Linked DNA regions of Homo sapiens: region 2 is linked to region 1. The links come from fine-mapping of genetic effects on gene expression. A gene starts in region 1. The other region holds a variant in brackets. All regions are shown on one strand. Distances are from middle to middle. Region 1 holds the start of SLC9A7 (solute carrier family 9 member A7). Region 2 has its middle 25 kb from the start of SLC9A7.

The links. PIP is the estimated chance that this variant, and not a neighbour inherited with it, causes the effect.
Region 2: its variant is fine-mapped to the expression of SLC9A7 in stomach (GTEx, PIP 0.97).

Annotation. Positions count from the first base shown.
Region 1 is chrX:46,755,668-46,767,746 of GRCh38, reverse strand. It overlaps SLC9A7 (solute carrier family 9 member A7), which reads left to right and starts at 8,629. Exons shown (of 17, transcript NM_001257291.2): 1 at 8,629-9,042. The coding sequence starts at 8,718. RefSeq lists silencers at 8,348-8,697, 8,718-8,857.
Region 2 is chrX:46,778,080-46,790,158 of GRCh38, reverse strand. No RefSeq gene overlaps it. Among named protein-coding and RNA genes, the nearest start is that of SLC9A7, 25 kb to the right of the region's middle. The variant T/G (reference allele first, on the strand shown) is at 5,750.

The DNA.
Region 1 (12,079 bases):
TGAGTTCAAGTGATTCTCCTCCCTCAGCCTCCTGAGTAGCTGAGAATACAGATGCCGCCAACACACCCGGCTAATTTTCCTATTTTTAGTAGAGATGAGGTTTCACCATGTAGGCCAGGCTGGTCTCAAACTCCTGACCTCAAGTGATCCGTTCGCCTCGGCCTCCCAAAGTGTTGGGATTACAGGCGTGAGCCACCACGCCCCGCCAATGCTAGTGTTTATGCCCATATATTTCATAGTATCCTGTGGGTGTGCCTGAATTTAAGGTTTCAGTTTTCCTCATCTGCCACATTTCAGGGTAACTGAACCCAGGACATAGCTCTTGGGGACTTCTTGAGGCCTTAACCACCGTCTTAAACTAATATAAAGTTGTAGCATGTCCAAGGGTAAGCAGAGGATTTGTTAACACATGACAGAGAGAAATTATTTAAGTTAACTTACAGCAATATTTATTTTTCTTGTACAATTATTTGAATTTAACACATGTACAGATTCATACGACCATCACTACAATCAGAATATAGAATGGTTCCATCATCCCCAAACCTCCCTTGTGTTATCCCTTTATAGTTATACGCTTCCCCTCCCACTTAGCCCCAGACACTACTGATCCATTCTCTGTAACTATACTTTTATCATTTCAAGAATGTCATAAAATGGAATAATATAGTGTGCAACCTTTTGAGACTCACTTCCACTCAGCATAATGCCTTTGATATTCATCCAAATTATTAGTATATCAATTGTTCATTCATTTTTATTGCTGAATGGTATTCCATTGTATGAACATACAACAGTTTTTTATTCATTCACCCACTGAAGGACATTTGGGTTGTTTTCAGTTTTTGGCTATTATAAATAAAGCTGCTAATAACATCCATGTAAAAAGCTGGGCGCAGTGACTCACACCTGTAATCCCAGCACTTTGGGAAGCCGAGGCGGGTGGATCACTTGAGGTCGGGAGTTCAAGATCAGCCTGGCCAACATGGTGAAACCCTGTCTCTACTAAAAATACAAAAATTAGCTGGGCATGGTAGCACATGCCTATAATTCCAGGTACTTGGGAGGCTGAGGCATAAGAATTGCTTGAACCTGGGAGGCGGAAGGTGCAGTGAGCCAAGATTGTGCCACTGCACTCCAGCCTGGGTGACAGAGCGAGACTCTGTCTCAAAACAACAACAAAAAAATCCATGTGCAGGTTTTTGGATGAACACATTTTCACTTCCCTTGGATATATACATATATACCTAGGAGTGAGATTGCTTGTTCTTATGGATAAATGCATGTTAACTTTATAAGAAACTGCCAAACTCTCTTCCAGTGTGGTTTACCATTTTGCATTCCCACCAGCAATGTAAGAGAGTTCCAGGGGCTCTTCGTTCTCATCTCCAATTGGTGTTGTCAGTATTTTTTATTTAGTCATTCTATTTCTAATATTCTAAGTCAATCTAATAGGTGGCAATCATGGTATTAATTTTTATTTCCCTAATGGCTAATGGTGTTAAACATCTCTTCATGTAATGATTTCTCATCCACATACCGTCTTTTGTAAAGTGTTAGTTTAAACCTTCTGCCCATTTTTCAACTGGGTTGTTTTCTTATTAAGTTTGGAGAATTTCTTATGTACTATGGATATAAGTCCTTTGTTGAATATGTTTTGTAAATATTTTCTCCCACTCTGTAGCTTGTCTTTTCATTACTTTAAAAGTGTCTTTTGCAGAGCAAAAACTTTTAATTTTGATGCAGTCCAATTATCAATTTTTTCATATAAGGATTGTGCTTTTGGTGTCATATCTAGGCACTCTTTGCTTAATCCAAGATCAGGAAGGTGTTCTTATGTTTTTTTGTAACTGTTTCACAGTTTTGTATGTTACATTTAAATCTATAATCTACATAAAATTCATTTTTGTACAAGGTATAAGATTTAGCTCAAGGTTCATTCTTTTTGTGTATGGATGCCCAATAATTCCAAACAATTCATTGAAAAGAACGTACCTTGTCCATTTAATTGCTTTTGCACTTTTGTGAAAAATCAATTTTGTATGTAGACCTATTTCTGGACTCTAATTTTGTCCCATTGATGTATATATCTATTCCTTCACCAATGCTACCCTGCCTTAATTATACTTTATTACTTTACATAGTAGCATTACAGTACATCTTAAATTGGATAGTGTGAGGCCTCCAATTTTATTCTTCTTTTTCAAAATTGTTTTGGCTAGTCTGTTACTTTGACTTTCCTATTAATTTTATATTTCACATGGCTATATTCACCAAACATTTTGCTGGGATTTTTATGGAAATTTTATTAAATCTGTATATCAATTTGGAGAGATTTGACATCTTTGCTTAGTCTTTCAATCCATGAACATGGCATGTCTCTTCATTTATTCAGGTCTTCTTTGATTTCTTTCATCAACATTTTATAGATTTTAGCATATAGATCCTGGACATGTTTTGTTAAAAATTTATACCTAAATATTTTTCTTTTATGCTATTGTGAATGATACATTTTAAAGATTTTTTGGCCAGGTGCAGTGGCTTACACCTATAAACCCAGCACTTTGGGAGGCCGAGGCAGGCGGATCAGGTGAGGTCAGGAGTTCGAGATCAGCTTGGCCAGCACAGCAAAACCTTGTCTCTACTAAAAATACAAAAATTAGCCAGGTGTGGTGGTGGGTGCCTGTAATCCCAGCTTGGGAGGCTGAGGCAGGAGAATCACTTGAACCCTGGAGGCGGAGGTTGCAGTGAACCGAGATCGCACCACTGCACTGCAGCCTAGGTGACAGAGCCAGACTCCACCAAAAAAAAAAAAAAATCTCCAGTTGCACATAGCCTGTATATAGAAATATGATTGGTTTTTGTGTGCTGACCTTGCACCTTGAGACCTTGCTAAACTCGCTTATTTGGTTCTAGGATTTTGTAGATTTCATGGGATTTTTCTAAGTAGATGATCATATTATCTATGAATAGGAGAATTTTTCTAATATCCTTTGAGAATTTCTCTTTTTTCCTCCCTTTTCTTTTTGTTCCCTCTGTTTTTAGTTCCTCTGTTTCCCCAGCATTCCATTAAAATTTACATATTGTGATTTTTGCTATATACGTATGCCTTTTATTTCGTTTTTCTGTCTTAGTGCACTGACTTGGAGTTCCAATACAATGTTGACTAAGAGTGGTGATAGTGGACTTCCTTGCCTTTTCCCGACCTTGGGGGGAAAGAATTCAGTCTTTTAAGAATAATGCTAGATATTCTGTGCGGTTTTTTTTTTTGGGGGGGGCGGGTATCTGCTCTTTATCAGGTCAAAGAAGTTCCCTTTTATTCCTATTTTGCTGAAAGCTATCATGAATGGATGTTGAATTTTGTCAGTGCTTTTTTCCGCATCAGTGAATATGATCAGGCAGCTTTTCTTCTTTAGACAGTAAATATGGTGGATTGCATTGAGTGATTTTCTCATGTTGAACAAGCCTTGTAATCCTAGGATAAATACCACTTGGTCATGGTGTACACTTCTTTTTATACATTGTTAGATTCAATTTACTAATATTTTGTTAAGAATTTTTATGTCTAAGTTCATGAGAGATATTGGTATGTAGCTTTCTTTTCTTCAACTGTCTGACTCTCTAGAAGAGACTGTACAGTATTGGTGTTATTTCTTCACACGGAAATCTATTTTTGTTGGATGTATTATTTTTGGTTAACAGTTCTTTCAGCACATTAAAAATGCTGTGCATGTCTTTATGACCTTCTTGGTTTCTGATGAGAAATCCGTAGTCATCTGAATTGTTGTTACCCTGTATGTAATATTTCATTTTTATCTTTCTGCTTTAAACATATTTTTTTGTTTTTCTTTTCAGCAGTTTGAATATAATGTGTCTGTGCTTTGATTCTTTGGGCTTATCCTGCTTGGGTTTTGCTGAGGTTCTTCAATCTGCAGGCTTGTGTCTTTTGCTTTATCTGGAATGTTTTCAGTTATTATATTTTCACATCTTTTTTTCTGTACCACACTGTTTCTCTTCTCCTTCTGTAACTCTAAAGACACAAATGTTAGATATTTTATTATCTCCTATAGGTCTTTGTGGCTCTATTTATTTTTCAGTTTTTCCTCTCTGCTATTCAGGTTGGATAATTTCTATTGATCTATTTTCATATTTACTGACTCTTTCATCTCTATTCTGCTATTGCATCCATCCAATTTTAAAATTCCAGCTATTGTATTCTTCACTTATAAAATTTTTTTTTTTTTTTTTGAGATGGAGTGTCACTCTGTCACCCAGGCTGGAGCGCAGTGGTGCGATCTCAGTTCACTGCAAACTCCACCTCCCAGGTTCAAGTTATTCTCCTGCCTCAGCCTCCCAGTAGCTGGGATTACAGGCACATGCCACCATGCCCAGTGAATTTCTGTATTTTTAGTAGAGATGGGGTTTCACCATGTTGGCCAGGCTGGTCTGGAACTCCTGACCTTGTGATCTACCCGCTTTGGCTTCCCAAAGTGCTGGGATTACAGGTGTGAGCCACTGTGCCCAGCCTAAAATTTCAATTTGGTTCTTCTTTTATCTTTTACTCCTGTGCTGAGCCTTTTATCCTTACATTCATTTCAAGATTATTTGTCCTTACTTGTTGGAGCATCATTATAATAGCTGCTTTAAAGTCTTTTTCAGATAATTCCAACATTGGTGTCACCTCAGCAGTGGTGTCTGTTGTTTGCCTTTTCCCACCCAAGTTAAGATTTTCATGGTTCTTCAGGTATTGAATAATTTTGGGTTGTATCCTGGACATTTTGAATATTATGTTATAGGACTTTGTATCTTGTTTTAATACTATGGGGAAATATTCATATTTTTGTTTTAGTTTGTAATAGACATGCTTGGGTTTAGATCACAAGTTCTGACATGCCTTTTGTGGATAGTGGCTCCAAAGTCAATTCAGTTTTCAAAAGTTTGTAATGCTATTCAGATCTGTCCTACATGTGTTTTATCCAGTGGCTAGTCTAGGGCTTGGGTGGTGGTCTGCCTCTTAGTTCAGTTATCACAGTCTTTGGTATGCTGTTTAGGATCAGATCCATGTGCAGGTTGGGGTGAACCTAGGAGTTCATAAAAACTTTATGAGGACCTTTCCCAAGGTCCTCTCCTCTCTACTGTCTCCTTGGTACTTTGTAATGCCTTGGAGTTCCCCTTTTAATCAATTGGCAAGAAATCTAGACTATTTAATTTATTTAAAGACAGGGTCTCGCTCTGTCGCCCAGGCTGGAGTACAGTGGTGTGATCATAGCTCACTGTAGCCTCGAACTCCTGAGCTCAAGTGAGCCTCCCACCTTAGCCTCTTGAGTAGCCAAGACTACAGGCAAGCACTACAGTGCCCAGCTAATTTTATTTTTAAATGTTTCATAGAGACAGGGTCTTGCTACATTGCCCAGGCTGTTCTCCAACTCCTGGCCTCAACAAATCCACTCACCTCAGCCTCCCAAAATGTTGGGATTACAGGGGTGAGCCACTGTGCCTGTCCAGAAATCTGGGTCTTTATTTAATCCTCTCTGTTATGTATTTCCTGAAACTTTGCCCATGTCTTGGGCCAAGCATCAGGACAGAGAGAGTGAAAAAATATATATCATTGAGGTTTTGGCCCCACTGTCTTGGGACCAGAGCTACTTCAAACAGAGAGGAAGGTTCTCCCCTCCCTTAGCATTTTTTGGGTGCTTGAAGGTATTGCTGTCTCCATTGTCACTGTTGACTGAGGTGCCACAGTGGGATTGCTTATTGGCTAAAATGTAAGAGAATGGAGAAAAGAAAAAAAATGGCACATTTCTCCTACTTTCTCTGAATATTAGGAGACCAATTTTCTGCTTTTCCTGGAGCTCTCTCTGTCCATGTTGATGCTCCCTTCCGGGTGTTAAGCTGCCTTGAGTCCAGTCTAGTGGAGACTGGAGGAAAAAAATGGTAAACTCACCGCCAGTTCAGTTTTACTTCAAATTCTGTTGTTTTTCCTCAGTTTATGTGGTACAATTTACTTTCCAGAGTCCTCAAATAGTTGCTGCATGCATTCTGTTCACATTTTATAGCTGTATTCAGTAGCAGGTAATGGGTTTAGTGTGATTATTCTGTGTTAACTGAAATCAGAACTCCTGTATTATATAGGTTAGTTTTCACACATAAATATGTAGAGATAATGGAGTGTTTTCTTTGGTGTGTATTTGTGAATGGTTGGGACTAGTCTTTTCATACTCTACCCAAGGGAACTACTTTACATAATAAATACTCTTCTGGTTATCTATTGCTGTGGAAGAAACCACCCTCAAACTTAGTAGCTTAAAATAACACCAATCATTTTATTATGCTACAGTTGCAGATGTTGGTTAGGTTCAGCGACATGGTTCTTGCTTGGGGCCTCTCATATGTCTACAGTAAGATGGTGGCTGGGAATGAATTGATTTGAAGACTCATTCATTCACATGTGTGGCATTTGGGCTGGGAACACTCAAAAAGTTGGGTCTCCTGTGGCATCTACCTCTATTGCTACATGGTCTCTCTACATGGTTTCTTCAGTATGTCAGCTTCCAGGTAGCTAGATTTCTTTGTCTGTTTGTTTGTTTTTTTGTTTTTGGAGGCAGGGTCTCACTCTGTCACTCAGGCTGGAGTGCAGTGGTGCAATCTTGGCTCACTGCAACCTCTGCCTCCCAGGTTCAAGTGATTCTCGTGCCACCACCTCCCAAGTAGCTGGGATTACAGGCACACACCACCACACCCGGCTAATTTTTGTATTTTTAGTGGAGACAGGGTTTTGCCATGTTGGTCAGGCTGGTCTTGAACTCCTGACCTCAGGTGATCCGCCCGCCTTGGCCTCCCAAAGTGCTGGGATTACAGGCGTGAGCCACCGTGCCCAGCCTAGCTAGAGTGGAAAGTGACAGAATGAAACAGGCAGGAGCTAGATTACCTTTTATGACCTAGCCTCACAAATCACATAATCTCCATTACCACATTATATTCTTTGAGGGAGTCACAAAGGTCCACTGAGGTTCAAGGGGAGGGAACATAGATGCCCCTTCTTGATGGGGGATGGTAAGGTTCTGGGATTGGAAATATGATTGTGGCCATCTTTTTAAAAAATACAATCCGCCACAAATACTAAGAAGTCTGTACTTTTAAGGTAGCTCCTGAGTTGCCCTTTTCTAAAGAGAGAAATTCTGTCCTTGAGTACTGGGCACCCAAAGGGGCATAATATTATGACCAACACAGTGCCCATCCAGGTTTTAAGTATTTGCAATTTTATTGGAAACCTGTGTGGAACTTCAAGGTATACGGATGTTTGCAGGGGCTGAGTGACTGCCTAGAGGAGTTGGGAAAGGGGCTAGCTAAAATGTAGATGAAGAGATTTCCCTGCTTTAAAGAAACCACTAAACAGCTTTGGCAGAGTGCTCACCTACAGGGGAACCAGGAAGGCTGCAGTACTCCAAAGAGTTTTCTTACCTAATGCTACCTCTACCCTATTATTTCATTTGGTTAAGCATCACCTTCTTCAATGAATCCTCTTAAAAATGCAAACTCCCCTGGGAGCGAAAACATGGGCAGTTTTGGTAGAGATTTCAGAGTGGTTCAATAAACACATGAGTACAGTGCTAAGCACTGGGAACTCAGTGATTAATCTGATCTTGTTTCTTCCTTGACCAGAGGAGCAAGGTGGATTGAAGATTCTAGTTTTCCTGAGAATTTGTTCCAAGAGGCTTCATCCTTCAGAGTCCACGCCATAATTTTGTTCAGAGCTGGGTTTGGTCTTAAGAGTCATTAAAAGACTCTCTGAGCTACCAGGTGAGCAACATAAAAGAAAGGGTCATCAGGGTAACCCCCACCCCCCACCACCACCTTAGGACCAGCTACTGCTCATCTACCAGGAATGGCAAGCGTTCAGTTCCTTCTGGTTCAACCCTATTCCCCAAGGGGATTAGTAGCACAGCGCAGACGAAGTCTATTCCCTCAAGTGAGGAAGGAGATACTTCAATGCCCTCCCCCGATTCCAACTCCTTATCAGTCCTCACATTTGAGTCTGATGAGAACAGAGGTTTGAATGAAACCTAGCAGATTCTGGGGCTGGAAGGGCAACCTGAGAGATGAGGAAAGAGAGGTGTAGGGGCTAACGTGGCTTCGGGGCTGCTCGGTTCACTGACAGCCCCCACTTTACTGGGCCCAGGGCGGCTGCACACTGGCCTGAGATTAAACACTTCGCCGTGGCGCCAGAGACGGGACTCGAGACCGCAAGGCTAGTCACTCCAAGCCGATGCTCCCGCTAGGCGCCGGCGACCTCTGGCGTCCCCTTTCGGAAGTGCGGCGGCGGCTGCCCATGAACTGGCCCCACGACCCCAGACTGCCTGGGCAGGTGCGCCAGGACGGGGTGAGAAGCGCAGAGAGGCAAGCAGCCGGCGGCCGGCCCGCAGACCCGAGGGCAACACCCGGCCCCGCCTGGGTGGCTCGGTTGGCCCGCGGGGCGGTGCGGCGTGGCGCGGCCGGGGGACGAACAGGTGCGCGGGCGGGGGGCGGTGCTTGGGGATCCTGCGCACTGCGCGCGCCCCTCCCCCGCGCGGCCCCGGGCGCAGCCCCGGCCCGGCGCGAGTAGGAGGAGGAGCTGCAGCGGCCACGGCCACTCCGGCAGGTCCGCGGTGCTGCCAGAACCCGCCGACGGCGCGGGCTGCTGGTCCCCGCTCGGAGGAGGCGCGGGGGGCCCCGGGACCATGGAGCCTGGTGACGCGGCGCGCCCTGGCTCGGGTCGGGCTACCGGGGCGCCGCCGCCGCGGCTGCTGCTGCTGCCGCTGCTGCTGGGTTGGGGGCTGCGAGTCGCGGCCGCGGCCTCGGCCTCCTCCTCTGGGGCGGCGGCGGAGGACAGCAGCGCCATGGAGGAGCTCGCTACTGAGAAGGAGGCGGAGGAGAGCCACCGGCAAGACAGCGTGAGCCTGCTCACCTTCATCCTGCTGCTCACGCTCACCATCCTCACCATCTGGCTCTTCAAGCACCGCCGGGTGCGCTTTCTGCACGAGACCGGGCTGGCCATGATCTATGGTGAGCACCCCTGTTACACCCCCCGCCCTCCACACCCCTCGGCCGCCGCGCTCCTCCTGGCGCCGCGCGGTGCTCCCCCTTCACTTGCCAACGTGTTCCGTTTCTTTTACGTTTCCCGCTGCGACGGTGTTGGTTCCCAAGGTCAACTGTCTGCATTTTCTGGCTCTCTGCTACCGTTAAAAACAATTCCACCCCTATTCCACGTTTCTGCATTGGGAACCCAGGAAAATGAAAGGGACAGAGGTGGTCCGGTTCCGTCTGCCCCGTTCGGTCTCTGTTGCAAACCTCTTACCCACCACCTCCCGCTCCAGTTGAGCTCGATAGGGTGTGTGTGCCTGCGTGGTGGCTGGAGGTGGGTGGCTTCCCAGGTGACTGCATCACCTCAGGGGACAGGCCACAGTAGGGAGTGGGGACGAAGTCTGAAAGTGTCTTTGCTTGGGTATGGGTTAGTGGGGCCTCTTGGACGCCACATCCATGGTCAGCCTGGGTGGGTACCCACTCCTGAGGTCCACATTCCCAGGTCTCTTAATGATAAAGTCAGAGCATGAAGTGTGGTGAAAGGTGAGCAGTGGTCCAGGACCCAGAGTGGGTGGCACCACCATGTCAGGCCTGGACGAGGAGACAGGCACGCCTCCTGCTCTTATGTCCCGAGTGGAAAGTTATACCCAGTTACTTGCTTTCTCAAACGAAGAGGAGCTTTTGTATTCCTAAGACGGTAACAGGGAGTGAGTTTGAGATACATTTCCGAATGTATGAAGGGGAAAAGTCGTGGTTTTAATTCCGGAGTCAGCCATCTTTTGTTGTTAGGGGTGGGCTGATGCTACCATCCTTTTCTAGATTTAATGGTACACAGTGTGTTACATGCACAGTGGTCAGTACAAATCTCCCTTTATTACATGGATGTCAGCCATAATCTGAGTCATCCCTCTTCCTCTTCTGTGCCCCCTGCCTCCCCCCTCGCCCTGCCCATGACTCCAAAGTGGAGTCAGGTATTCTCTTTTTGAATGTAATTCAGTGGTGTTAAAGCCCCTGAATTGGCATCCTCACACGAAATAGACGAGCCACTTCATGATTGTTCCCAACGGGGAAAATTTTATTTTATCACATATACTGAGGGATTTCTTTATTCAGTTTCCATCCAGGTGCCCTGATAGAGAATGGAAAGCAGAAACCTTAACCTTTAATGTGAAAATTACCCTTGGTTCTGGGCCTTGCTTCTCATGTTTCTTGATTAGTTGTTGACAGCCGGGGCTCATGGCCACCAGGCCCTCGCAGCCAAACCGTGTAAGGGGCAAGCGCTGTTAAGAGCCCTCCAGTTTTGATGAAGTAGTGACCTACACAGATCTTGAAACAGGACCAGGTCTAAAACCGAGTTTGGTGATTGCGAATTATAGGTCTCAACACAGACTTTGGCCTCCATCCCTGACCGTTGTTGAGCTCTGTGGTTTGTGTCAGTTGGTGATAAATGACTGATGCCAGGCCTGCAGGTAAGCTGGGAGGTTTCCTGAGAAGACAGACAGGGGGGAATTGAAGCACGTGGTCATTGCAGGTGATTGACTCCAAGCCATGATGCAAATGAAAATTGCCTTTATATAGATAACCGTGAAAATATTTTTATTTAATAGGCCCTAGACCCAGTTTCTTAAAGGACAATGTGAAATAGGAGGTAGATTTGTCAGATTCGTAAACACATGCTCAAGGGATGGAAAATAAATGGGGATTTGAAAATATATTTTCTGGAGAGTACTCCGTGTTCTGAGGAGTTCAATCACCTTTATCTTAAGGCTTAAAGACAACAGTGGAATTTTCCTTTGCTGATACGTACTTTTAAAACTCACCTCCATCTTTCAGCCATTTGGTTGTGCTACAGTGTACTGTTTTATTTTGTGAACAATCAAGTTACAAATCTAGTGTAACTGATGGCTGTTCAGAAAAGGCAATATCATCTCAGCATTCCTGTGTAATTTTGTTCTATATCTTTGAGTATTAGTGTTTCTTTAAATGTATAAAGAAATTTAGTTTGTCAATATGTGATGTCTCAGGTTATGCCAAATATTAATATTTTAAGGACTGTCTGTAATTGTGAGAAAACATTTCTTCTTTCTCTCAGGTATGTTTGGTCTTCTACTGCAAGGTCCCCCTAATCTGAATTCTAATGTCATGTGATTAGCTAATTATTCATAGTATACTGAAGACTATTGGGATGGGGATTTTAAACTGATCTTAAAATTCAGTTTGCAAATCTTTTAAAAAATTGTCTGCATTTAAGATGTACAACATGATGTTTTGATAAACACAATGAAATGATTACTACTGTCAAGCAAATCTTTGAACACAAGTAAATCCAGTAAAGATTTTTCAAGACTTCTCTTTTTTAATAGTAAAAAATAAAATTTGATTTCTCTATATCAATAGAGGAAGTGAGTAATTGTCCTCTTGGCTCTGAATAAGGAACGACAAAAAGACCTAAGGAAACATTTTTAAAGTATCCACTGTGTGCTGGGAACCCAACTTAATTTCTGGAGGCAAACAATTTAACTTTTAAATGTTTATGAATGAAAGAGTTCAACTGTGAATTTCAAAACTCTTTATTTTGAGAAAAAGTTTTAAAATGTAATTTCTGCCACCTTTTTGTGTTTAAGTGACACTTTAATCTGAGAAGAACAGCGTTTACATTTAAGATAAATTTATATATATATAAATTTATATATTTGTTGGTATAGTCGTAAAATATCTCTGGAAGGACATGCAATAGATGAGTAACATTGGTTTCCTTGGGGGAGAGGAACTAGATGGCTGTGAAATAGGAGTGGGAGGGAGAGGTCACCATATAACCTTGTATGCTTCTTGGTCTTGTAATAGCTTTTTTTTTTTTTTTTTTCCAAGACGGAGTCTCACTCTGTCGCCCAGGCTTGAATGCAGTAGCGCAATCTCGGCTCACTGCAAACTCCACCTCCCGGATTCAAGCAATTCTTCATCTCAGCCTCCTGAGTAGCTGGGATTACAGGCGCCCGCCACCATGCCCGGCTAAATTTTG
Region 2 (12,079 bases), 22 kb before region 1:
TTTAGGATAAGTTGACATGGAAGAAAAATGATCATAGTGTTTTAGACACTTTACTTATTTTACTTTATTTTTTTGAGACATGGTCTTACTCCTAACGCCCAGGCTGGAGTGCAGTGGCATGACCATGGCTCACTGCAGCCTTGACCTCCCTGGCTGAGGTGATCCTTCTACCCTCAGCATCTCGAGTGTCTGGGAGTATAGGCGCCCACCACCACACCCGGTTAATTTTTTGTATTTTTAGTAGAGATGGGGTTTCACAATGTTGCCCAGGCTGGTCTCAAACTCCTGACCTCAAGTGATCCACCTGCCTCGGCCTCCCAAAGTGTTGAGATTATAGGCGTGAACCACTGTGCCCAGCCTGTTTTAGACACTTTAGGAATCACATAGCCATAGGATTGAGGAAAGTCAAGAATTTGGTTCAGATGGAAAGAGAGAACATACAGATGATGACTGATCTAAAGCATATAAAAAGAAGTTAGCAGGCTGGGCAAGGTGGCTCACGCCTGTAATTCCAGCACTTTGGGAGGCTGAGGTGGGCAGATCACCTGAGGTCAGGAGTTCAAGACCAGCCTGCCCAACATGGCGAAACCCTGTCTCTACTAAAAATACAAAAAATTAGCTGGGCATGGTGGTGGGCACCTGTAATCCCAGCTACTCGGGAGACTGAGGCAGGAGAATTGCTTGAACCCTGGAGGTAGAGGTTGAAGTGAGTTGAGATCACACCACTGTACTCCAGCCTGGGTGACAAGAGCGAAACTCCATCAAAAAGAAAGAAGAAAAGAAAAAGAAAAAAGAAAAAAAGAAGAAGTTAGCATGGTCAGATACACAGCTAGAAATCAGTAAATATTTTCCAGTGACAGAGGAAGGTTTTTGACTCCAGATCCCCAAAACGACCTCACTAGTGGAAACACAGCTGTAAATAACAAGTCTGAGTGAGGTAAGGTCACATCCAGCTTTTGAAAGCTCAGCAATTTGGCGACAGAGAACAGTTCAGACCCTTAGGCATGAGCACAGCCCTTATTTCCCACCCACGGCTCAACTAAACCAGCCTAGCCTGGGCCAGATGCTTTTCAGAGCTTAGAGCTGTGAGATTGGAATGCAAATCAGTGGCCCATTCATCTATCTGTGTCTTAGACCAGCCCTAGAGCTAATCCTGAAAGGATGTGCTGGGAGAGTAATGATGATATCAAAGTGATGTGCAAGAATGAAGACTGAGGTCACAAAATGCATTGCGGCCAGGGAGGGTGCCAAAGATTAGAGCCTCGCACCATGATTTTAGTAGACTGGTTGCATTAATGTTCCCAATTATTCACTCCTCCTCCTGTATCTGTACCTTTGACACGTAACTTTGAAACTCCTTTGATCGAAGAGACAGAGTATATTTCTGTGCCCCTTGATTCTGAGGCTAGCCATGTAACTTTCTTTGGACAATGGGATGTTAGCAGATGTGATGCATGCAGAGGTGTTTTTTGTTTGTTTGTTTTTTGGTTTTTTTTGAGTCAGAGACTTGCTGTGTCACTCAGGCTGGAGTGCTGTGGTGCGATCTCGGTTCACTACAACCTTCGCCTCCTGGGTTCAAGCGGTTCTCCTGCCTCAGCCTCCCCAGTAGCTGGGATTACAGGTGCGTGCCACCATGCCCAGCTAATTTTTGTATTTTTAGTAGGGTTTTGCCATGTTGGCCAGGCTGGTCTCGAACTCCTGACCTCAGGTGATCAGCCCGCCTCAGCCTCCCAAAGTGCAGGGATTACAGGCGTGAGCCACCATGCCCCGCCATGCAGAGGTTTTAAAAAGCACTTACAGGTATACACTTCTGCTCTTCCTCTTCCGCCCTCACCATGAGAACATGCTCAGGCTAGCCTGCCAGAGGATGAAATATATGTGGTGAATATATGAAAAATATATGGAACAGTCAAGTGACCCCAGTAGCAGCCAACGCCATCTGAGATAAGTTGACAGCTAGCCAACCCCGAGACAATAGAGTGATCCTAGTGAAGACCAGAGATATTCCCCGATTTGAGTTCAGTCTAAATTGTTGAGCCACATATTTGTGAGCTAAATACATGCTTATGGTTATAAGCCACTGAATTTTGGTGTAATTTGATATGCAGCAATATTGCAGAAATAGATAACAGTCAAGACTGTGTACATTCTGAGGATGTGCACAGAGATGAAGAATAGGTAAGCAAAAGCAGTGTCAGAGTGTCAGAGTAGTATTCATGGGTTATGCAGGGTAAAGCGTGCTTCCCTAGAGTGAAGCAAATGGTTCTGCCCTCTGCCCACACTCCATCTCCATTGCTATCCTTTCCACCCCTGTTTTTCAATAGTTATCCAGCATACATATTCTATATGTGTTTTCTTAGATTTATACCTAAGTATTTCATTTTTGGAGATAATATAAATGATATCGTTTTAACTTCTATTTGTAATTATTTGTTACTAATGTATAAAAAATAGAATTGATCTCTGTATGTTGGCCTTGTATTCAGTGACCTTGTTAAACTCACTTATTAGTTTCATGTCATTTTGTGGATTCTTTGGGATTTTCTATGTAGATAAACATCATGTTGTCTTCATACAGGGAAAAGTCTCTTCTTTTCTTTCTAACCTGTGTCCTTTTTTTGTGCCTAGTATAGTGGCTAGGACTTCCAGTACTGTCCCTCTTTGTAGACAACATGCCGAATAGTATATAATGATCACATGGCATTTATTCTTGGAATGCAAGACTGGTTCAATACTCAAAATTAATCAGCAAGGCCGGGTGTGGTGGCTGATGCATGTAATCCCAGCACTTTGGGAGGCCGAGGCGGGTGGATCACCTGAGGTCAGGAGTTCAAGACCAGCTTGGCAAATATGATGAAACCCCATCTACAAAAATACAAAAACTAGCCAGGTATGATGGCGGGTGCCTGTAATCTCAGCTACTCAGGAGGCAGAGGCTGGAGAATCGCTTGAACCCAGGGGGCGGAGGTTGCAGTGAGCCAAGATCGCACCATTGCACTCCAGCCTGGGTGACGGAGTGAGACTCTGTCTCAAAAACAAAACAAAACAAACAAAAAATTCAATCAACGGATTCCACTATATTAAAAAAGAATAAAAACCACATGACCACATCAATTGATGGAGAAAAAGCATTTGACAAATTCAACATCAATTTATTAAAAAAAAAAAAAACTCTCGGTAGGCCAGGCACAGTGGCTCACGCCTGTAATCCCAGCAATTTGGGAGGCCGAGGAGGGCGAATCATGAGGTCAGGAATTCGAGACCAGCTTGGCCAACATGGTGAAACCCCGTCTCTACTAAAAATACAAAAATTTAGCCAGGCGTGGTGGCATGTACCTGTAATCCCAGCTACTCGGGAGGCTGGGGCAGGAGAATCGCTTGAACCTGGGAGGTGGAGGTTGCAGTGAACTGTGATCATGCCACTGCACTCCAACCTGGGTGACAGAGTGAAAGTCCATCTCGCAGGGCAGCGGGGGGTGGGGCAAGGGGAAACAAACAAACAAACTCTCAGCAAACTAGGAAGATAAGGGAATTTGCACAATCTGAAAAAGGCATGCACAAACAAACAAGCAAAAACCCTATAGATAACATCATACTTAATGGTGAAAGTCTGAATGCTTAGGTTCACAGCAAAAATTTTAAATATATATATATGATAGAGATGAGGTCTCACTATGTAGCCCAGGCTGGTCTCAAACTCTTGAGGTCAAGCGATCCTCCCACCTCGGCCTCCCAAAGTGCTGGGATCACAGGCATGAGCCACCAAGCCTGGCCTCACAGCAAAATTAAGTGGAAATACAGAGTTCCCAGATGCTCCCTGATCCCACCCCACTCTAACAGCTCCCACCCCACTCTAACAGCTCCCACTATCAGCCTTCCCCACCAGAGTGGTACATTTGTTCCAACTGATGAACCTCCATTGACACATCATTATCACCCAAAGTCCACAGTGTACATTAGAGTTCACCCTTGGTGTACATTGAATGGGTTTGGAAAAATGTATAACAACATGTATCCACCATTGTAGTATCTTACAGCGTAGTTTCACTGCCCTAAAAATCCTCTGTGCTCCATCTATTCATCCCTCCCTCTCTCCTAACCCATAGTTTTCCAGAATGTCATATAGTTGGAATCATATAGTACGTAGCCTTTTCCTTTTTATTTTTTAAGACGAAGTTTCGCTCTTGTTGCCCAGGCTAGAGTGCAATGGTGTGATCTCAGCTCACCGCAACCTCCACCTGCCCGGTGCAAGGGATTCTCCTGCCTCAGCCTCCCGAGTAGTTGAGATTACAGGCATGCGCCACCATGCCCAGCTAATTTTGTATTTTTAGTAGAGACAGGGTTTCTCCATGTTGGTCAGGCTGGTCTCGAGCTCCCGGCCTCAGGTGATTCACTCGCCTCGGCCTCCCAAAGTGCTGGGATTACAGGTGTGAGCCACCGCCCCGGGCCATATGTAGCCTTTTCAGATTGGCTTCTTTCACTTAGTAATATACATTTAAGATTTCTTGTTTTTTGGTGGCTTGATAGTTCCTTTCTCTTTATTGCTGAATAATATTCTGTTCCCTGGATATACCATAGTTTATTTATCCATTTACCTACTGAAGGACATCTTGGTTGTTTCCAAGTTTTGGCAATTATGAATAAAGCTGCTATAAACATCTATGAGCAGGTTTTTGTGTGGCTACAGATGTTTACTTTCTAACCATTTGGCAAAATGTGCCTATAATTTGTATTTGTGTGTACTTCACAAGGAAATGTCTTTGTATCATATTTTTGTTGTTTTATTAAAACATTTAAACAACTTTTTAAATTGATAGATAAAATGATATGTGTTTGTCATGTACACCATGATGTTTCAAAGTATATACGCATTGTGGAATGACCAAATCTAGCTAATTAAAACATGTATCACCTCACATAGTTATCATTTTTATGGTGAGAACACTTAACATCCACTCTCTTAGCAATTTTCAAGAATACAATATCTTCTTATTAACTATAGTCACCATGCTGCACAGTAGATCTCTTGAACTTATTTCTCCCATGTAACTGAATTGAAACGTTTCAAAATGAGCAAATACATGAAAAGCACATATTGAAGCTTAATAATGCTACCTGTTATGATTAAGTGATATATATTCATCTCCTTCAAAAAAAGAAATTGTGTACCATCTATTTTTTTCTTTTTTGAGACAGGGTCTCACTTTGTTGCCCAGCCTAGAGTGCAGTGGCATGATCACAGATCACTGCAGCCTGGACCTCCTGGGCTCAAAGCCTCCTGAGTAGCTGGGACCAAGCCCAGCTAATTTTTTTGTATAGAAGGGATTTTGCCATGTTGCCCAGGCTGGTCTCAAACTCCTGGGCTCAAATGATTCACTTGCCTTGGCCTCCCAAAGTGCTGGGATTACAGGGGTGAGCCACCATGCCTGGCCATCTATTTCTAATTAATTAATTAATTTTTTTTTTAGAGATGAGGTCTCACTCTGTTGCCCAGGCTGGAGTGCAGTGATGCAATCATAGCTCACTGCAGCCTTGAAATTCTGGCCTGTGGTTGGTGATTGCAGAAGTGATTCTCCCACCTCAGCCTCCCAAAGAGCTGGGATTGCAGGCATGTGCCACCATGCCCAGCCTTAAGGGAAGGATACCATTTAAATCAAGGGGCCTGACCAAGGCCAAACATGGCAAATATAGAATTTTTTTACAATACATTTCTGTTAACAAAATAGTTCTACTTTTTATAAAGATAGAT[T/G]ATGGCACAAAGGCCTTATTCTGCCTTATCAGGTATTTCCATAAATATACTTTCCTTTATATGTGCTTCCAGGCTTTGCTTAAGGTGTTAAAGGTGCTAACATTTTAAAGTAACCAGCAAGCTTTATAAGCATTATCTCAATCACTATTTTTAGATCACCAGTAAGACTATTCAGACACTTACTTGACTCTTGTGGGCCAGGCTTGGACTTACCTTTCTTCTCCAGGCCTGTGCCCTTCATGTGTTTGAGAATGTGAGAGTGTACGTGTATTGGGGCTGTGGGGAGACAGCTCAGAGGAATACCAGACACTGGAGACTCGGAGGGGTGGGATGTGAGAGGCGGGTGAGGGATGAGAAATTAATGGATGCATGTGCACTATTCGGGTGACGGCTACACTAGATGCCCAGACTTCACCACTACGCAACATATTCATGTAATGAAACTGCACTTATGCCCCCAAATCTATACATATTTTTAAAATTTTTTTAAATAATAAAAAAGAAATGAAGATCTACTTGTCTTGGGTTTGGCTGCAGCTGTTGCACGCAGACATCTCCAACCCTGCCCAGCACTACTCCACGGTGCTCTAGCCTTTCCTCGAGTCCCCTGTATGCTGCAGTCCCCATCAGCCCCACCCCCATGCTGATGTCCACTCTCAAGGCCAAGGATGAATGACATCTTGTGAGGGTTGTTCCTTCACTATGTTCCTCCTATGTGCTCCAGCAATGTGTCTTTTTTTTTTTTTTTTTTTGAGATGGAGTTTCGTTCTTGTTGCCCAGGCTAGAGTGCAATGGTGCAATCTTGCCTCACTGCAACCTCTGCCTCCCGGATTCAAGCGATTCTCCTGCTTCAGCCTCCCGAGTAGCTGGGATTACAGGCATGCGCCATCACACCTGGCTAAGTTTGTATTTTTAGTAGAGATGAGATTTCTCCATGTTGGTCAGGCTGGTCTCGAACTCCCAACCTCAGGTGATCCACCCGCCTCGGCCTCCCGAAGTGCTGGGATTACAGGCATGAGCCACTGCGCCTGGACTTAGTAATGTCTTATTTACCCAAGTAAATGAGCTTTCTGGGGTAGGAATTGCTGTACATAAGGGAATTGTCCGTGGAACTCAAGTTACTCCTTTTAATGACAATTTTTTTCTTTAAAATTTAACCCTTTTAATAGAAAAAAATCTTGAAATAGATTGTAAAATTATTGCCTTCTTTTAAGATGGATAATAAATATAATTTAGCCTTTCTTTGGTATGCCATAGTTCCATGGGCACCAAGATATGTGGGACAATTTGCCCTATGGCCCACCCTGGAGTGCTTTATACTAGTTCTAACAGCTATGGTTTTAATATAACACTTGTTTTCCCCCTTATATAAAAGTATTATGGGTTAGGTGTGGTGACTCATGCTTGTAATCCCAGCACTTTTGGAGGCTGAGGCGGGCAGATGGCTTGAGGTCAGGAGTTTGAGACCAGCCTGGGCAACATGAGGAAACCCCCGTCCCTACAAACAACAACAACAACAAAAACACAAAAACAAATCCAAAAATTTAGCCAGGCATGGTGGCATGCGCCTGTAGTTCCAGCTACTTGGGGGGCTGAGGCGAGAAGACCGCTTGAGCTCAGGAGGCCAAGACTGCAATGAGCCACATTTGTGCACTCCAGCCTGGGTGACAAAGTAAGACCCTGTCTCAAAAAAAAAAAAAAAAAAAAAAGTATTATGTCCTTATAGGAAATTTGGAAAGTCATAAAAAGGGTGAAGGAAAATTGCTCTTTTAGGCCTAGAAACATTTTGGTGCATTTTCTTTCACTCTTTTAAAAGACTTATGTGAGCCTGTTTTTTCTCTATAGCTTATTTATTCAATTTAGTTGCAATCTCTTACATCTTACCTAAATGGTTCTGTCTCCTCTCTCTCTTTTAACCAGTTAGTCATCCCTTCTCACTGCCTCTAGGGTCACTTGGCCTGCTACCTCCTCGCTTCTATAATCTGTGACTTCTAAATTGTGAGCTGAGGGAACAAGTTTACCATGATCATTCAACTGTAAGTAAAGGTAACAATGGACAGGCTCTGCAGGAAAGCCTGAAGCTCACATGACCAGAGTCAGATTTGTGGGCTTCGAGATGGCTGCTCTAGCCAATCAGCAGACATTTTTGTTTTCCTGCCCCATCCCACATGTGTGAGATTCTCAGAACGTCTACTCTCACTTTTCTTTTGAGACAGGGTCTCACTCTGTCACCCAGGCTGGAGAGCAGTGGCATGATCATGACTCGCTGGGATCCTTGACCTCCCAAGCTCAAGTGATCCTCCCACATCAGTCTTTCAAGTAGCTGGGACCACAGGTACGAGCCACCATACTCAGCTAAATTTTTGTCTTTTATAAAGATAGGATCTCACTGTGTTGCAGTCTGGTCTTGAACTCCTGGCTCAAGCAATCCTCCAGCCTTGGCCTTCTAAAGTGCTGGGACTGCAGGCACATGACACCACGCCTGGCCTACTCTCACTTTAAACGTGTTGATGTTATTCTGCAAGTGCAGAATGAGTATATATTCAATCAGACTTTAAATATCTTGAGGGTAGAGACTCTCTATCTTCTAACAATACCTTGTATTATGCTCTACACACAGCAGGTATTCCAGAAATGATTTTTGAATAGCATTCAATGAGATATTCCCAGTCTCATTCCAGAATCCATTTTACCTATATCCTTTACCTTTACCGAAGTTTAGACTTTTAATCGGAATAAGGTTAAAACTGACTCAAGGAGTGATTGTGGGGGACATTTCTGAGCAAAAAGATTTTCACCCACTGCTGACCACACCTCCGAGCTTTCATTTGGCAAATTATTCCTCTCCCACCCTCACACTCTCAGTGTGAAGCATATGACCTACACCTGAAGAAAATCAGCATCACCTTCTCCCAGCCACAGTGATTGGTTCAGAGTTGGGCACTTGACCCATGCTAGCCCTGTTACTGTGAACTTCAAGAATTCTGGGGATGCTGGGATAAAGATGCTTGCTCCTTTTTGCTGGGTGTGAAATGGAAGGATATCATCCCAGGAGTTCCTGGCAGCCACCTTCCAGCCATGAGGTGGCCTCTTATGAATGGGTCAACAGACAGATGAGAGCAGAGTTGTACTGAGAGACGGAAGACAGGGCTTGATTGTATATTTTTGAGCTCTGTATTCCCATGTGCAACCATGGCCAAAGCCAAATTTACCAATGGCCAGCTAAGTTACCGTGATGGTTAATATTAGGTGTCAACTTGATTGGATAGAAGGGTAGCTACATAGCTGGTATTGTTTCTGGGTGTGTCTGTGAGGCTGTTGCCAGAGGAAATTGACATTTGAGTCAGTGGGCTGGGAAAGGAAGACCTATCCTCAATGTGGGTGGACACCATTCCATTGGCTGCTAGCACAGCTAGAACGAAGCAGGTGGAAGAAGGTGGGATAAGCTGGCTTGCTGAGTCTTCTGGCTTCCTTCTTTTTCCTGTGCTGGATGCTTCCTTCTGCTCCTCCTGCCCTTGGACATCAGACTCCAGGTTCTTTGGCCTTTGGACTCTGGGACTTGGACCAGTGGCTTACCGGGGACTCTCAGGCCCTTCAGCCTCCGACTGGGGGCTGCACTGTCGGCTTCCCTGGTTTTGAGGTTTTTGGACTCCGACTGAGCCACTACCGGCTTCTCTCTTTCCTCAGCTTGCAGACGGCCTGTCATGGGACTTTGCCTTGTGATCGCGTGAGCCAGTTCTCCTTAGTAAAGTCCCTTTCATATATACATATGTCCTATTGGCTCTGTCCCTCTGGAAAACCCTGACTAAACAGTTACTGTGGCAGGCTGGGTCCCTCAGAGGCTGACACTGAGATGGAGTTCGGGATGCAAAGTGTTTATAAGGAAGGGATAATACCTGTGAAAGAAGGATGACACAGGATTGGGCCGAGCGATGCTGAGCGATGCCGAACGATGCTGAAGCAGGTCTGATGAAGCCTTAGCCAGTCCAGCAGGGAGCTCTGGAAGTATTTTCAGTCAGAGTTGTCTCAAGGTGGGTGTTTACAGCTCTGCCTCACACAGTCATTGGATGTGGGTTGTATAGAGAGGGTATGACTTCAAGGGAGATGGCTCTCCCCACCAGAGGCAGCCCCAGAAGAAACTGACAAACTGGAGCTGGAGCTATCTGGCGACTGCAGTCCCTGCAGCTGTGCAGCAAGTCCTTCCCTTGAGGGGGATCCGGGTGGTGCATCTCTGTGTCTAGTGCTGTTACGAAGGATTATTATCATTATTATTATATGATGCTAAACAAGTTTGAGCTGAGTTTCCTGGCACTTGAAGCCACAAAAGTTCAAACTAATACAGTAATTGTTTTCATAGCCAAATTCCCACTGTGATTTGACAATGAGACTTGAGCTATCAAGTTCTCTCAAAACTGCCAAGAAGGTTTGTTTCTCGAAAGAAATGGACATTTGCAGTTATCCACTGAAAACGCTGGACCTACAGGAGTATTAAGAAAATTAGTGTAGGCTGGGCAAGGTGGCTCACACCTATAATCCCAGCACTTTGCGAGGTTGAGGCGGGTTAATCACCTGAGGTCAGGAGTTCGGGACCAGCATGATCAACATGGTGAAACCCTGTTTCTACTAAAAATACAAAAATTAGCCCGCTGTGTTGGTGCATGCCTGTAATCCCAGCTACTCAGGAGGCTGAGGCAGGAGAATCGCTTAAACCCGGGAGGCGGAGGCTACACTGAGCCGAGATCATGCCACTGTACTCCAGTCTGGGCGATAGAGTGAGACTCTGTCTCAAAGGAAGGAAGGAAGGAAAGGAAGGAAGAAAGGAAGGAAAGGAAGGAAGGAAGGAAGAAAGGAAGGAAGGAAGGAAGGAAGGAAAGCAAAGCAAAGCAGGGTATTCTGCTGATAGCCTGTAGTATATTTCAAGAACACTGCTTTAACATATAGGGAAGATTTTGATATTAAAGATGTGTTTAAACACTGAAGTGATCTACTAATGTAGTAAATATATACTGAATGTCTATTATGTCCTTTATGTATGTTAAGTCATTTAGCCTTCATTAGATAGTGAGATAGGTACTATTATCCCCATTTTACATATGAAGACAGTGAGGCACAAAGAAAGTAAATAATGTATCTAGGGTCATACAGACAGTTCATGGTAGAGCCCAGGCTTAAACCCAAGCAGTCTGGCTTTAAAGCTTGTGCTCTTAACCATTATGCCACAGCTTCTTTAAAATAATTTTACTAATTTCTTTAAAAGGTCTGCCGTCTAGATTACAGGCGTGAGCCCCCGTGCCTGGTCTCACTGTCACGATCTCCAGGCTGGATTGCAGTGGCACCATCTCAGCTCACTGCCACCTCGACTTCCTGGGCTCAAGCTATCCTCCTGTGTTGGCTACCCAAGAAGCTGGGACTACAGGCGCGCACCACCACGCCCAGCTAATTTTTGTATTTTTTGTAGAGACGTGGCTTTGCCACATTGGCCAGGCTGGTCTTGAACTCTTGGGCTCAAGCGATCCTCCTGTCTTGGCCTCCTAAAGTACTGGGCTTATAGGTGTGAGCCACCATGCCTGGCCACATTTCTAAATTCATATTAAAGCAGATTAAAAAGAAGAGTGCCTAAGGAAGAACATCATCTATATTTACTCTCTAGCCATGGAGATAACAATGTTTTCATTTAAAAAATATATATTGAGCATGTAAACCAAATAGTATCTGAGACAGGTCTCAATCCATTTAGAAGTTTATTTTACCAAGGTTAAGGACATGCCCGGAGGAGAGGAAACAGAGAATCACAGAAACAGTCTGTGGTCTGTGCCTTTCTCCAAAGATGATTTTGAGGGCTTCAGTTTTTAAAGGGGAAAAGCAGGCTGGAGGGGAAAGAGGGAGGAGGGTATGATATTCACATGTTGCAAGAGAAAAGGAGCAGGTAGGGGAAGAGTCAATTATGTATTCGTCTCTCACTCAGTAAATCACTGTACATAAGATAAGGTGAACACAGAGTAGCTACCTGCAGAGATATTTAACCTTTTATCTGTAGCTATCAGCTTAGGAACAAAGGGAAAGGCAGCTTCTGGCATGACTCAGCTTTCAGCTTCATTTTTTCCTTTTGGCAGTGAATTGGTGTCCTGCGTTTTTATTTTCCTTTCACAAGCCGCTAGAATCTGCCAAGCTCTTTGTGGGGTAAACAAGACAGATAATATTTCTGATCTCAAAGCTTAATGTTAATGTAATGGGAGAGACACAAACACACAAATAAGCCAAACCAAGATAGCAGCAGATTGTGAACACTGCTGAGAAAGAATTAAAGAGAGCGCTGTAGTAGTAACTGGC